Regions from separate parts of the Homo sapiens genome. Here region 2 is linked to region 1. The links come from fine-mapping of genetic effects on gene expression. Tissue or cell type: whole blood. Region 1 holds a variant in brackets; the other region holds the start of a gene. All regions are shown on one strand. Distances are from middle to middle.

Region 1 (2,694 bases):
CCTGCATTTGGAAAGAAAGCATTTCAACATCATTTTTCAAAAACAGGAAACCCAAAACTTACGCTATCACTAAAAAGAAATTTTAAAAGGTTGTCCAGAGAGTTTTTATTTCAAAAATAAGTTTTCTTTTTGTATCTTCAATAAGCTATGGCTATGTTATCCTCAGACAGGGAATCTCCTAGTAGGATCCTACAGTTCCACGCTTGGTCTTCAGAGAACCTTCAGAGAAGTAGCAACTGGGTGCCCAGTTAGCATTCTAAAGTCTAAGGCATGAGAAGAGATCACAATACACTTCTACACTTCCATGAGACTTTCTTTTGTTTTGCTCATTCACTTCTCACCAATCCATGCACTCCTTCCCACCACTTTTCATGACCTCCCATCATCACAAAAGTACATAGAACAAAATGAAAAAAAGTCTGTTTCTTGGTGTTAGTCAGTATGTTGCTGCACATACTGGTGTGTGTGTGTGTGTGTGTGTGTGTGTGGTCTGTCTGTGTGTGTATGTGAAGAAGAGAAAAAGGTGGGGGTGGCGGTGGGGAGAGAGAGAGTGGGTTGGCTCCTTAAAACAAAATTGTTAAATGCCGGGGTTTTTTTCCCACCCACCTTGCCAGAAAACAGGAGAGACAGAAAAGTATCCATCTAGTCCCTAAAGAAATGTCCCATCTGTCAAAGTCAGAACTGCAGGGTTACATGAAGAATCAATGAACAGACAAAGTACATTTTAAAGAAGGATTCCTAAGGGAGACATGCATCAGGAATTCTCAAAGGGAATGAGGAGAGAGAGGAATTGGTAAGCTAAGGCCCCTATATTGTTGGTCTAGAAGGGCTGTAGCGCAACAGAAAAAGCATTCTATTTCTAAATTGACTTTGTAAACTTGTTTTGCCACTAACTCAAAATGAACATTGGGCTTAACCATTTCTCCTTTCTTTACTTCAACTTCCCCTTCTCTATATAAATGTTGTATAAAGCCCCTCACCACCCTGGTAGTCTGTGGATCTCTAAAGCCATTGAAAAATGTTTCTAGGGTGGATATGGAGTTGGGTGGTCTATATCAATGTCCCTGGAGTTTTCTTTCCATATTCTAATAGTCCTTATCTGGGAAAGATCAAAGCCTTTACCTAGTTCTCTTTTTTAGATACTCTAATCTTTTCTGTACCACCCCTGCCCATTACCTGATGGTTTTGATGACATTAGAATTTACAACATCCTCCTCTGCATCTTTTCTACCCCAAGACACTCCCCTACTTATATTTCATGTTCCTGGAAATGCTGACCTCCCAGGGGCTCCTTGCTATATGTTCTCTGGAGTTGCTAAGTGTGTAAAGTTTTTTGTAAGTGCTCCTCTGGGGTAGGAAGTTGGACACAGAGAAGTAAAGCAGCCCTACTCTCTTTCAAATGGCTTTTCTGCAACCCTCACTGGCTCTAGAATCCAATCCCAGGGACACTGCCTCTTCTGGGACTCTAGAAGTTCTGCAAGTC[C/A]CTCATAGCACTTTTTTTTTTTTTTTTTTTTTTTTTTGAAACGGAGTCTTGCTCTGTCACCCAGGCTGGAGTGCAGTGGAGCGATCTCGGCTCACTGCAACCTCTGCCTTCCAGGTTCAAGCGATTCTCCTGCCTCAGCCTCCCAAGTAGCTGGGACAACAGGCATGTGCCACCACACCCAGCTAATTTTTTGTATTTTTTAGTAGAGACAGGGTTTCACCATTTTAGCCAAGATGGTCTCGCTCTCCTGACCTCGTGATCCACCCGCCTTGGCCTCCCCGTCATAGCTTTTCATGAGAAGAGACAATCCAACTTGAATACATGAAGAATCACATCTTTAGCACCCCAGAGGTGAGTTTCATCTTAAAAGCTTTTTTTGCAAGGAGATTTCTCATCCATCCCTACTAACCTCACCACATCACCATATTATCACAGCACAGGCACCACTATCACTTTTGCGCTTACCATCTCTACCTTTGTTACTCTCACCACTGTCCCTCCCTTTGCCATGTCAGCTATCTTTAGCCATTGTTCCAAATGATTGATGTTGAATACCTAATACACTTGTCTAAGTCTCCATCACCAGTATTATTACCATTACTTACATTATCACTACCATTATTATTACCCAGGCATCTTCATGAGACTAATCTACTTTTTCATTATTACTTTTACTTATATCCATATCCTCAATATGTTCATCAACATCCTAATCTTGACATCTGAACTCTTATCTCAGCTGTGTGTTCTCTGTGGGCATGTACTTAGATGGATATGGAGTCCAGATGAATAATGGAATTACAGCATTTATCTATCAGAAGTAAGGTATTTGAATCATTCATAGCCCCAAATGTACTTTTATTTTTCAGAATCAGGTGGAAAGAAAGCAGTTGCTATATTAAATTTAAGATACGGAGGTAACCATAAAAAGATTAACAAGTAAATCATATTAAACGGAAGAAAAATACTAAGTGTTCTGAGTTCAAATTGGAAAAGCTTTCCTGTAGGAGACGGAAAGTTTCTGAGCCAAAGGAAAGGAAGATATTTGTTTCTGAGAGTACTAATGTGACTTTGGGATTGAAAGAGTCTCTCAAATTTTTGGACAATATGAGGGTCTCATTCAACCTTAATCAGCATTTAGCTTATGTCCCACTTACTCTGAAATACCTAACCTTTCACAAAGATGGATAGTTGAAACTATCCTTCACTAA
Region 2 (2,694 bases), 29 kb after region 1:
AAGGTTTCCTTGTGTTCCTCTTTACCCTTTACCTTAAGACCTGCTCGAAGCATCAGCATAAGAGAGAAACTGAAACAATGAACACCCACATGTGTTAGTGGCTGTCATTCTAGATCCTCTTGGTTTTTTCTGATTTACCCTGCTTTAGTGGGGTTTAGACAGTTTCCAAATCCAAACTTTAACTCTCTCTATGCTGCTGGTTTGGATTAAGACAATCAGCTTTATTCTTCTCTGTAGATGGCCTTGGATCATTTTCCCCTATTAGCTGTTTTGGGATCCTTTTCCAGTCATGACCACATTTTGCTTACAGATCAGCTAGTTGGTAACCACAGCACTGTCTGCTAACTGATACCATTCATTTGACAATTCAGAGTTATGATACTTTGTAGTGCACCCACTGTTCTTCACAGGAAAAAAAAATTGCAGTACAAAGGGTTTATCAGGCCCCCTATCATTCCAGAGTTTCAGTGCTGTTCCAGAATGTTCAAGGTTTCAGTCATGATATGAACCAACTATCCATAAATAATGCAAAAAGCATGAGTAATCATGAATTTAATAATCAAGGTAAGGCAGCTCAGTTATTATACTCAAGAGAGCAACTAGTATGAAACTCTTTCAAATTATTTGAATAAGGATTTACATATTCATAATGACTTTCTGCCTCTGTCAAGCTCCAGGTGTATCAGTTATTAATAACTGGGTGAATATGTAGGTACTATTTAAACAAAAACAATTTCACAGTAGACCCACCCCTATCCAAGAGATGAAGTCAAGTTCTGGTAGCAATAGACATCTCTACCAAGATCTCCTGCTCCTGCCACTCTGTGAACAGGAAAGGAGGGAGAAACTTTGGTGTTTTGCCTTTCCCAATTTATATTAAGATCCTTATTCAAGCGGCTACCGGTTTCTAATGACCTATATGTAAGTTAGCTTTATAAGAAAGTTCTGAGTTTGAAACTCCTTTCAGCAAGTATTTGTAAGTCAAAAAAGCGAAGAAGAGGCACCATTTACTGTCATTTCTCCTTGTGACTGAGATTACTTACTACAAAGAGGAACTGACCACTTTCTCTGACATCTGAAATAGAAAGCTACAAAGGCTGATAGGCGTGGCTTCAAAATTGTTTCATGATTACATAACTTCTTTCTAGTTAGGAATTAGGACAGTGTAAGAAGGCCATCTACAATCAAGATTGAGAGTGGCTCTAACAAGTGCCATTTTTCCTTGTTAGCTTTCATTTCTCAGCCCTTTACAAGATTAAAATAGTCTGCAGTTTAATCTCTCCAAAGCTTTACGGACAGTGATTCTGTCCTAAACAAGACAGTGACTCCAGGATTTCTGAAGACTATTGTGGAAGAAGCATCCATTAAGGTGAGATTTCTGGGAAGTTCTTTAGAGAAAGATCTAGGTATCTAGTTGGTAACCACACCATCTCAGTAGAGAATAATTGCCTGAGACCAGAAGTGTTGTTATCAATCATATTCAGAAAACTGAGAACTGAATGCTTTAACTGTCTAGGTAGCAAATGGATATCTTTTATTCTACCACAATTGGGGTATGAACCAAAAAAATGTATTTTGTCTACAGCAGGTTTTAAAAATTAATTCTTGGGTGTCTTTTGGCATAAATTGATATTTAGAGGAGATACTTGGTTTTCTTGGCTGGAGGATGACTTGGTGACTGGGTTTGGGCCTAAGTTAAAAGACAAGACAGTCAGATAAGAAAATTATTATGAAGTAATATTTAGTAAAAAATAAACCAGGATATAAATCTCTATTATATGATTTTATCTCTATTTTAAAAAGCATAGACATGTGCACACATTAATTTCTCAATTTTACAAGCATTTACTCAAAAATAATCTTTACATTTTCATGAATCAGTTTCATTTTATGCTTCATTTTACAACAAGTGTAAGAAGAAATAATTCTCTTTTTCAAATGGTCTATGCTTTACTCAGTCATAGATAACATTTTTTGTGGCAAGGTATAATGAAAAGACAGGGAGAATCAATTATATATTTCCTACTTTGGGATACATTTTGACTTTTTTATGGCTTTGTACATATGAATGTTTTCTAATTACTCCATGAGTACTTGAGAAGAGTTTATAAACGTTGGATTCCAAATTCTATTTAAGTAAGATAAAGTTTCTTAAGTAAGCTTGTTAATTATGTTTGAAAAATCTAAATCTAAATCTAAGCTATTTTTTACCTTGTTCTTTCAGTAACTGAGAGATGTGGTGAAATCTCCAACTCTAATAGTGATTTTGTTAATTTCTCATTGTAGTTCTTTTGATTTCTACCATATATTTTTACATAGAATATGTATATCTAAGTATATATGTTATGTGTGTGTTTAGAGAGAAGAAAAAACTTCTATATGCTACTTTATAAAGTAATAACAGATTATATTTATAATATAATTTAAATTATTATATCTTTTTCCAAGTTGCATACTTTACCATTATGTAGTGAAACTATGTACTGATACTTATTGACTTAAGCCTATTTTAAGCTACACTATTTTTCCTAAAAAGTCTTTCTTTAAGTTAGAGTTTGAAGAATATAACTTTTCCAGCTCTTTCTCAAACTTAAGTGAACTTATGCTTTATTTGTACTTTGTCAACAACATATGACTGGATTTATTTTTAATCCAAATTGAAAATTTTTCCTCCTAGTTGATGAGTTTAGTCCA

What was found. PIP is the estimated chance that this variant, and not a neighbour inherited with it, causes the effect.
Region 2: it holds the start of MNDA, and the variant in region 1 is fine-mapped to the expression of MNDA in whole blood (TOPMed, PIP above 0.99).

The regions. Positions count from the first base shown.
Region 1 is chr1:158,800,706-158,803,399 of GRCh38, forward strand. It overlaps a transcript of OR6N1 not described here. Among named protein-coding and RNA genes, the nearest start is that of OR6N2, 21 kb to the left of the region's middle. The variant C/A (reference allele first, on the strand shown) is at 1,484.
Region 2 is chr1:158,830,189-158,832,882 of GRCh38, forward strand. It overlaps MNDA (myeloid cell nuclear differentiation antigen), which reads left to right and starts at 1,163. Exons shown (of 7, transcript NM_002432.3): 1 at 1,163-1,369. It also overlaps a transcript of OR6N1 not described here.